Linked DNA regions of Homo sapiens. The protein of the gene in region 1 purifies or fractionates together with the protein of each later gene. This does not show direct contact. Each region holds a gene or a part of one and is shown on either strand. Other genes may lie near its edges.

Region 1 (4,329 bases):
GAATCAACAGGCTTTATAATCTGCCCAATCAAAATCCCATCCATTTTTACTTACCTGATGGCAGTTGAACCAAAATGAAGAACATAGCAAATAGAAAATAAAATGTCTTCCTGATCAGGGCCATCTTTTAGGGAAGACTCTTCGGAATAGAGATTGGGATTTCCTTGAGAAGACCCAAATGAGAGGCTCATTTTTATTTAAAAGTAATGGGGAGATGCTCTTGATCCGTGAAGTGAATCAATAAAACACAATTATATGCTCCATTTCCCAGGATAAAGGGATGATATCATGGATAATAACCCTTGGCATCCAGAAAGCCTTTTATTTTGGGGAGTCTAACTGGTGTAGTGGAAAGAACACCAGGCTAGAGGTTGAAAGAGCAGGGGCCATGTGAGTTTCCACCATACTAATGCAGGGGCCAGAAGATAGTGACCCCTTTCATCTCTTCCAGCTTCTGTTTTCTGGGAGAAAATAAGAACCCACTTGCAAATTCTGCCTGCCTCTAAAGGTGTTGTAAGAATCTAGTATGATTATAATGCAAAAGTGTTTTGAATATGTGGAATGCTTGGAAGGAGGCCTGGTACCATGTAAGAACTCAATAAATGTGGACTCTCACTTTTCTAGCTTTCATTTTTATTCTCTACAAGTATCACAGGGAGAAAAGGAGGGGTAGCAATCATTTTGTCAAGTTAGCTCTGAGTCCCCTTTCCTGTAAGATATCACCTCACGCACCAAAGCCATAATTACTGCATATTTTAAATTCATTAAGGACATGAATATTGGCCCAGATGGGTGGCTTATGTCTATTATCGTAGCTTTTGGGAGCCTAAGGCAGGTAGATTGCTTGAGCCCAGGTGTCTAGGGCAAGGCATGATGGTTACCAGCTCCTTGCTGCGCCAACAGTGCCATGGTACAGGTGAGCAGCATGGCAGGACCAAGCACGAAAAGCGTGCAGCATACAGCAAGATTCACATTTTTTAACAAATATATGCTTAGGTCAAGCCCTTTGCCAAGTTTACAAAGCTCAAAAAGACTGAATCTGGAATTCAGATTCCACCTCACTACGGTTCCTCAGCTCTTAACTGAAGCATTGAGATATTGTATAATTACTCCCATTTTACATATGAGTAAACCAAAGCTGTTCAGGAACACAGCCAGGATTAGAAACCAAACTACTGGACTCCAGATTTTTTTATTTTTTCTGTGTCTGCCCTACTCTGTCCTCCCTTCATCCCCACTTTCCTTCTTCAAAACTTTCCAGAATCAGAAATATGATGAGCTGTAGACTGAGTGACACCCACTGAGGTTGGGTGGGCTCTGTGCAGCAGAGCATGGAAATCCTCTCGTTTCTGCTAAGCCTCACTGATCAAGATGTTACTTGGTCTGGAGAAATGTATAAATGTGGGTGTTTGCGGCTCTTTCCTCATGGACACGGTGCTGATCTCTCAAGACCCACCCAGTCATGAGGACTTTCCTCTTTCTCTTTGCCGTGCTCTTCTTTCTGACCCCAGGTAAAATGGGCATCTTTACAGGGAAGGTGATCGGAGGTGGTGTCCCACAGACAGGGTCCCCTTCAGTGAATGCCTGGGCGTGATCAACCCATCTACTACAAGAGGTGATATTCCCCAACGCCTCTTCTGTAATTCCTTTGCATTTTACATTGTTATCTAGGAGGGGCTGTCACAGGTTTGAAAGAATAAAAGAAGGCCAGGAAAGATGCCTTTTGGCATCCCATCTCATGCTCACTAACAAAAACAAAAATTGAGAAAAAATTAAAAACAAGGATAGCAGTCTATGAACCTTTTAAAATGTAGTTATGGTAGAGATTGAGACAGGTAAGGAGAAGGGACAGGTAAGGATCTGAGCTTAGAGACACCTATGCACTCATGCCAGTCATGGCAACAGGTAAAGCAGCGTAACTTGGACTGCCATTTCTTGATCACATATCATCAAGCCAAGTACTGTGATGAGAGCTTCACATAAAATGCATCTAGTCTTCCAGTGCCAGCGCCTTTACGGAAAACTCTGTCTTACCCCTAATTTAATGGAAGTTAGAGAAAATCTTTTTGGGTTTGAAGGTCCATTTTACAAATTTTATTACAGATGCAGAAATTGTGCCTCAGATGGGCTCAGTGCTTCTCAGAGTCTTATAGATAACCAAAACAAAGCCAGGGTAGGAGCCCAACTGTCTTGCCACAGTAAGAGGCATTAAAGACACCCTTCCCATATCAAAACTCTCTTCATTTTCTCCTGCTCCTGGGAATCTCCAGTGGCTCCAATTGTATCCTCTTCAAAATTAAGGCTTAAGACCAGGCTCATGTGAGCCTCCAGAGAGCTGAAGAAAGGGATTCTCAGAGCCCACAGTAACTCCCAATTTCTGCCAGATACCAGTGATATACGATCCCAGGTATGATGCTCAACTTTTCACATCAGCTGCTCATAGCTCTGGTCTGTTTTGTGACAAGCCTGTGAGAGTAGATTCTGTGTCAAAACATGAGGATCTAGGACCCACAGTGACCTATGCCGTATTCAGGCCACTGGTTTTGATATGCACGTTCGAAACTGGCCAGAGGTATCTTTTTCAGATCACTCATACTTATTATATAATAAGTCAAAAAAAAGATGTTATATACTATAAAATTATCTGTTAGATAATACTATAATTATAAAAGTATAATTAGTTACTATAATTATTATGTAATTACAGATACTTATCTATAATTACATAATGCTTGTTATATAATTATTAGATAATCTAATAATTACCTATTAGATATACTAGAGTATAATACTATAATACAATAGTATTAGAGAAAATCTTTTTGGTTTAGTATAGTATTATAGTATAGCATAGTATATACTATAATTATTTACTGATGTTACAGTATGGTATTGTACTAGTATTATATACTATATAGTATTGTACTAGTATATATTATATATATATATATACATATTTTTTTTTTTTTTTTGAGATAGAGTCTCACTCTGTTCCCCGGGCTGGAGTGCAGTTTCACAATCTCAGCTCACTGCAACCTCTGCCACCGGGGTTCATGCGATTCTCCTGCCTCAGCCTCCTGAGTAGCTGGGATTACAGGCATGTGCCACCTTGCCTGGCTAATTTTTTGTATTTTTAGTAGAGACGGGGTTTCACCGTGTTGGTCAGCCTGGTCTCGAACTCCTGACCTCGTGATCCACCCTCCTCAGCCTCCCAAAGTGCTGGGATTATAGGTGTGAGACACTGCACCTGGCCAGATACTATATTATACTAGTATATTATTACTAGTAGTATTATATACTAGTATGTAATATAGTATATATACTAGTATAATACTCTAGTATATAGTATAGTATACATACTAGTATAATACTCTAGTATATAGCATAGTATACATACTAGTATAATACTCTAGTATATAGTATAGTGTATATACTAGTATAATACACAAGTATATAGTATAGTGTATATACTAGTATAATACACTAGTATATAGTATAGTGTATATACTAATATATACACTAGTATACAGTATAGTGTATATACTAGTATAATACTCTAGCATATAGTATAGTGTATATACTAGTATAATACACTAGTATATAGTATAGTGTATATACTAGTATAATACACTAGTATATAGTATAGTGTATATACTAGTATAATACACTAATATATAGTATAGTGTATATACTATTATAATACTCTAGTATATAGTATATATACTAGTATAATACTCTAGTATATAGTATAGTATATATACTGGTATGATAATATAGTATATATACTATATTATTACTAGTAGTATTATATACTAGTACATAGTATAGTGTACATACTAGTATAATACACTAGTATATAGTATAGTATACTAGTATAATACACTGGTATATAGTATATATACTACTATAACACACTAGTATATAGTATAGTATATATACTAGTATAATACTATAGTATACACTATTATACCAGTATATACTATAATACTAGTATTTTTATAGTATATACTAAGCTATACTATGATACTATACTAAACCAAAAAGATTTTATCTGAATACCACGCTATAGTCTATAGTATAGTATTATATTAGTATCTGCCTTACAGTAGGGCAGAGAGAACATAGACCCCTGCCAGTGAGAGCCAGAGTTCATCGAGCTTTGAAATAGTGGAGTATTTTCACTTATGAACTGATGTGCTGATCCTGGATAATCATTAGTGCATATGCTGGCACTAATCCACCTGGCTGTAAGTTTTATGTAGATTTGAATTAGGCACCTTTATATGTTGACATTAAATGTATATACATTATAGTATAGACATTAAATGC
Region 2 (3,500 bases), on another chromosome or scaffold:
ACTTTGGGAGGCTGAGGTGGGCGGATCACCTGAGGTCAAGAGTTCGAGACAAGCCTGGCCAATGTGGAGAAACCCCATCTCTACTAAAAATACAAAAATTAGCTGGGCGTGGTGGTGGGCGCTTGTCATCCCAGCTACTCGGGAGGCTGAGGCAGGAGAATCACTTGAACCCCAGAGGGGGAGGTTGCAGTGAGCCAAGATCATGCCACTGCACTCCAGCCTGGGTGACAAGAGTGAAACTCCGTCTCCGTCTCAAAAAAAAAAAAAAAAGTCTTTTATACTCCATCTCAGCATTCTAAGCACCGCATCATGAAATACCCCTCAGTTGGGGTGTAGGGTAAAGAGGTCCCAAGTTAGGAAGGGGCACGTGCACATGTCCTTAGTTCTCTCCGGCGTGCTTTGAAATGGAAGCAAGGTGGCAGACCTTTGAAGTTTTTGGGTTTCTTTTATGGTACCATGTTTCTCACCAGATGCAGCTTCCTGCAGGTCTAAGGCCATTATTCAAAACAACAAAAGCTCATCCTGTTTTGGCATAATGGAATTTGAATACACTGTAATAAAGTCTATTCTCAGTCTGCACAAGAGGAAACAAAATTGGTACCTTGATTTTTTTTTTTTTGTAGGGAATAAACTGGTTAAAAATGGATGTGTGTGTTTTTTAAACACAATCCTATTGCTCTTTTTCCTAAATTCTTGTTTGGGCCTCTGAGTCTCCTTCACGACCAAAAGCAGACAAGACAGTTACAGTCCAAGGGTCCCTGCCTTGCACAGGATTAGGATATTTCTGGCCTCCTAAGAGTTCACGAATTACCATATTGGGTCAAAACCAGGGCTCAGTGAACCAACTAGACATTCTGGTCATCCACCCAAAAGATCAGGATTATGTCTGTAAAATATCTATAATGGTGCTATCATTGTGACTTTGCTGAAAACAACTCCAAAACGACTCATATTTTGTTTCTATCACCTCTTAATGGAACAGATTCCAGAAGCTTTCTATTGCTGCTTAGAACAAACATCTCTATACACTATCAAAGGGGCTTGCTCTAAATTTGGTCAAGTTCCCTGATGAGCTGATCCTTGAGCACCGTGCTCCCAGCCTTCATGTGCCATCATGGGCCGGCCTCCTGAGTGTGTCCTCCCCTAAGGTGACCCACATCTCTGCCCCCCGGGTGTCCCTATCCCTGCTCTCCAGTGTAGCCTGCCCTTATTTTCACAGTCAGATTGGCCACTGTCTTAGTTTCCTATTGCCCTTGTGACAAGTTACACATACTTAGTGGCTTAAAACAACACTTTTTTTTTTTGAGAGTCTCGCTCCGTTGTCCGGGCTGGAGAGCAGTGGTGAGATCACAGTTCACTGCAGCCTTGAACTCCTGGGCTCAAGTGATCCTCCCACCTCAGCCTCCTGAGTAGCTGGGACTACAGGTGTGCGCCATCCTGTCTGGCTAATTTTTAAATTTTTTGTAGAGACAAAGGTTTCATCATGTTGCCCAGGCTGATCTTGGACTCCTGGGTTCAAGCAATCCTCCTGCCTTGGCCTCCCAAAGTGCTGAGATTACAGGCACAAGCCACCATGCCCAATTTTTTTTTTTTAAGGCAAGAAATAAATTTTATTGAAGGATTTTTCACCATCCATAGAGATTATCATATGATTGTTTTTCTTAGAATTTTTAATGCATACATTTTTTGGATTTTCTAACTTCAAATTCCCTAATTTCTTCCATTTCTGAAATAAACCGTACTTGATTAAAGTGCATGTTTTATTTTTTAATTTTTATTTAAGTTCTGGGATACATGTGCAGAATATGCAGGTTTGTTACATAGGTATCCATGTGTCATGCTGGTTTGCTGCACCTACCAACCCGTCACCTAGGTTTTAAGCCCCGCATGCATTAGCTATTTGTCCTGATGCTCTCCCTCCCCTCGCTCCCCGGCTCTGACAGGCGCTGGTGTGTGATGTTCCCCTCCCTGTGTCCATGTGTTCTCACTATTCAACTCCCACTTATGACAACATGCGGTGTTTGGTTTTCTGTTGCTGTGTTAGTTTGCTGAGGATGATGCCAGCCAAAATTTTTTATCTTACTGGTCAGAAGTCTATAATGGGTCAGCAGAGCTGTGCTTCTTCAGGATGCTCTAGAGGAGAATCCTTTTCCTTGCCTTTTCCAGCACCTAGAGGCTGCCCGCATTCCTTGGCTCATGGCCACATCACTCTGACCTCTGCTTCCATCATCCATCTCTTCCTCTCACTCTGACCTTCCTGCCTCCCCTTTACAAAGGTCTTTGTGATTACATGAGGCACACCCAGGTAATCCAGGATATTCTCTCCACCCTCAAGCCCTTAACTTAATCACATCTACAAATCCCTTTTGCTACATAAGGCCTGGGGATTAGGATGTGGACATATTTGGGGGGTTATTACTCAGCTGACCATACCATACAACATTTTCTAGGAAAAACCATAGGACATATTTTTTACTTAGCTACAGGCAACTTCCTGAAGACCCCCAGCAGCAGTCTCAGTTGGCTACTCCATCTCTTTCCTGGGCTGAAGCCACCTGGTTAGGACTCATAGCCCAGTAAACACATATGGTATCACCTTGTACCCACTCTCAGAGCACAGAAACCACCTGGTACAAAAGATGATTCCTATGACAAACACATGTATATCTCAACTTACATTTTGCCTGCTGAGGGACAAATTCCTGTAAGAAAACTCCAAGGGCCCAACCAAATTCCAGCAGAAAAATGTCATGACCTGGAACTTTAAGTAGAACCTCTTTGAAGAGGTTGCCCTTAAAGCGAACCAGGTCACAAAAGCTCTGGCCTGGCTTTAGAATTTAGAACTTTTGAATGACACACATGAGAATAACCAAGTTAGCTGTATGGATGGCTATGAGGGGTGCACACAGCCCGTTCACCAACTGAGGAATGGAGAACTCGAAGGGAGGAACGGAGACTCGGCCAAGCCTCAGCACTCACAGCGGCAGGGTGGATGAGTTCTAATAAGGGTAGTTTCCTGTGACAGTCCGGAATCTGGAACTAGGCATCAGGTGAGAGTGCCCTGGAGTGGAGTGGGCTGGGGGAAGAGGATGGGGCTTGCTGGTGGTGTAGGTGTGGGTGTGGCAGCCAGGTCTCCAGTGGCTGCAGGATCCTGCCCTCAGCCCAAATGGCTCCTGCATGAAAAGCTGCGGTGGATCTAAGTGGCAGCTAGGAGTCAAGGCAACTAGCTTCCTCCGAAGCGAGGCAAGACAAGGCACAGCCGAGAAGCCACTCAACCTCTGTTCCCAATGAATCCATTTCCATGTCCCTGCTTCGCTGTACGACACCCCACACCCTGATGTGCATCTTGTGAAAAATCAAGATGAAAATAAAAGGTCAGGAGAAAACTCTGTGGAGACTGTTGTCAATGTAGTCAAACTGACTCTGATATAGACACCTTCCGCATTCTGCACTTACTCATGCAATTTCATTTACTTTTTAGAGAGAAAGGACATTTTCAC
Region 3 (2,844 bases), on another chromosome or scaffold:
GTTTCCAGGCCCTGATTTCTGTTCGGCCAGCCTTCCACTCCCCCATTATGAGGATCTGAGCCCTGCTTAGTGATAGGACCATGCCCTTGTTGACAAGCCTCCCAGACAGTACCTGGCTCCTCCCTCACCTGGTCTCCTGGCTGTCATCTGACCCAGATTCCTTGTCTCTGTGCCTTTCCCACAGGTCAAGTCACCCTGCTCCTTATCTGGGACCTAACTACCCCTTTTCCACTATCACTTGGCTGGATTGTGACTTGCTGTTACATTTCTTTCTTGCACACTGTACCCTAGACACAGACTCAGCCACTTCTGCCCCAGGATCAATGCCCTCAGAATCTACCAAACCCCAGTAGGAAAGACTAATTCTAGAGCACAGCATGCACCCAGCTGCTCCTTCCCACTGCAAGTATTGCACTCAGACTGGCCACATCATAGCATATGACACACACATGCATGTCTGATGGTTCAGGGTAGCAGTACACAAGCAGAAGCCGGTCTCTTTCCAACCCAGAACTTTGTAATTAAACAAGCTTCTTGCTATATCCTAAAAACACAAATCCTTAAAGCATGAATGAGAAATGAAACCCAATGACAGAAAGTTTAGTGAGCAGGTTTGGTGTTTTTATACAATTAGTTCAAATTAGCGAGGAAGGCGTTCAATGGGGCAGTTTCCTAATCGCTGACCTCACTGGGGCTCATTTCAGCTTTGCAAACTGGTTGAAATGAAAATTCAATGTGTTTCCTGTTCTCAAATTTATCTGTCACCCCAACAGGCTCATTACAATTGCAGGAGGTGCAGATGAACCATCCGGGGTGAGCCGCCGACTCCAGCATGTTCCAGGAGCCCACCTGAGCCCTATAAAAGATGAAGGGCCGGCGTGCTGATTCCTTTTGGGCAGCCAGCTTCATCAGTTTCTCCTTCTGTGAGGTAAAAGGGATTAATTAGATAGCACAGGCTTTGAGAGGGAGGAAAACACAGCACATGTGCTCATCCTCCAGGCCTTTACACAGGAGAGGAGGAAAAGAGAGAAGGCAGATGGTCCTTGGGAAAGATGACGTGTCAGCCTTGGTACTGGTATTTAAGGGATGATAAGCAATCCTGCCCTCTTTTCCAGGCCTTCTTGTCCCCCAGATTAAAAATAAACTGAGAGAGAGAGAGAGAGAGAGACGTAAGAGTCAGATGGATACCAAAATCTCAGCTCTATAGTTTTTAAAATTAGAGAATATGGCTTAGATCTGTATCTAATTCAGCTTCCTAAGATTTCTCCCCTCAAGTGAAAGGTGCTCCATCCAGGACTAAATTTGCAGGGCAGACACACTGCCCTCCGAGTGCTCCCTCACACCCTCCTACCCTACAGCAGCACGCCAGGGTCCTGGCCCAATTGTGTTGCTTGCCACATGGAGGGCCACAGCAGGAGGGGACCGCCACCCGCCCAGGGCCAGGACCAGTGAGCCCAGGAGAGGAGAACAGGTGCTCAGCTCCTTGCTGTCTCCCCGCTGTGAGGAGTCTCTCCTCCTTCCCTAGAAGGGGCAAGGAACCAGAGAAGAAGTTATGGGGCTCTTCTGCCTGGTGCTTCCAGAAAGGTGGATGTCCCTGTTATATTGGCCAAGATAAGAATTTGCAGGAAAGCGAGAGGCATTGAGGATCTTGGCCTTTTACTTTGGGGTAGCCAAAGGCCCAGGAAACTGAGCTAGAACTCTCACCTTCAGCTGAAGGGATGGATGACTTTGTCCTTTATCCTTGTCACAGTAGAGACAAAACTCCCCTTTAGAGACCCCCAGGAGAATCGGACTTCCTTTCTCCGCAGAGGCTGAGCTCAAGGATGAGGCTAATGCAAAGAAGATCTCTGGAAAAAGACAGTCAGAACATGTGTGGGTTCTGAGAGCAGGGAAAGGTCTCTCCTGTCTGCTGGGGTTTCAGGCCTGATGCACAGTCCCTCTCCCTTGACTCTGTGGTCCACTTCTCCCTCCATCACACTGGTTTAAGCCTCCTCTTCTTCCAGTCTAAGTGTCTGCCTCCTTCTTTTTCTCCAGCCCTTCCAGAAAGACTACTTTCAGATCTGGTCATTGCTAGAGACCCTTCATCTGATGCCCTAGTCCCTGGGGCCTCTCCTCCTCGCTTCCACCACCTGCTGGAGATGGGGCATGGTATAGCATGGAGTTGAGCCCACCTAGCAGGAGGCCTTACCCCTGCTAGGTGGAGGCAGAAAACACAGCCAAAACTGAGAGTCACCTGGGCGTATGTAGTTTTTATCTGGAACTGCTATGAGATTCCCAGAGTCCAGGACCAGTACTTTGTGATCCTGGTCATGAATGCTGAATTTCTTCGGGTTTAAGTTCTTCACCTTTGGACCTAGATCAATATCACCAGATATCAACACTTCACATTGAAAATGGAAGACTCAGCCCTTTCTTCCCCACGTCCAAGGGCCCCAGCCCTAGCTCTCCACCCTGCCTGTGGGCTCAGACATCACAGCCACTGAATATTTCTTCCACTCCCAGGCTTTCTATCTTGCTGGGACAAGCAATTAAGCTTTCTGTGCAAGCAAATGGGTTCCAGATTTGGACAGATAGATTCAAATCCCAGCTCTGCTGTAGGACAGAGGACAAGTTACTAAGTCTCTCCAAACCTCAATGTCCTCATCTGTGAAATGAAAGTAATAGCAGCACCTACTTGAGAGAGGAGTTATGAGAACTAAAATGCTTACTCAAATAAGTAGCACTTAGCCTGAGCAAAGAAAATGTCTGGCGTATAAAAAGGACTTTTTATAATCATTGTTTTTCTTAACTCTCTTTTTTGCACCCTCTGACTGGAGGCATCATTCCCTCAGCAGTGCCTAGAGT

Evidence for each region.
Region 2: the proteins of DEFB106A (region 1) and EMC8 purify together in Homo sapiens (affinity purification with mass spectrometry, with the first as the bait; one large-scale study listed by BioGRID). This does not show direct contact.
Region 3: the proteins of DEFB106A (region 1) and IL37 purify together in Homo sapiens (affinity purification with mass spectrometry, with the first as the bait; one large-scale study listed by BioGRID). This does not show direct contact.

Annotation. Positions count from the first base shown.
Region 1 is NC_000008.11:7,823,715-7,828,043, forward strand, and holds the start of DEFB106A (beta-defensin 106 precursor), read left to right. Parts: upstream 1-1,424; 5' UTR 1,425-1,462; coding exon 1,463-1,511; intron 1,512-4,329. Other genes in the region: DEFB105A (beta-defensin 105 precursor), read right to left, coding at 55-124. UniProt on the Homo sapiens protein: Has antibacterial activity. Acts as a ligand for C-C chemokine receptor CCR2.
Region 2 is NC_000016.10:85,789,545-85,793,044, forward strand, and holds part of EMC8 (ER membrane protein complex subunit 8), read right to left. Parts: intron 3,390-3,500; exon of another isoform or gene 2,753-3,389; coding exon of another isoform or gene 2,678-2,752; intron 1-2,677. UniProt on the Homo sapiens protein: Part of the endoplasmic reticulum membrane protein complex (EMC) that enables the energy-independent insertion into endoplasmic reticulum membranes of newly synthesized membrane proteins.
Region 3 is NC_000002.12:112,916,638-112,919,481, reverse strand, and holds the end of IL37 (interleukin-37), read right to left. Parts: intron 2,354-2,844; coding exon 2,234-2,353; intron 1,848-2,233; coding exon 1,705-1,847; intron 922-1,704; coding exon 673-921; 3' UTR 600-672; downstream 1-599. UniProt on the Homo sapiens protein: Immune regulatory cytokine that acts as a suppressor of innate inflammatory and immune responses involved in curbing excessive inflammation.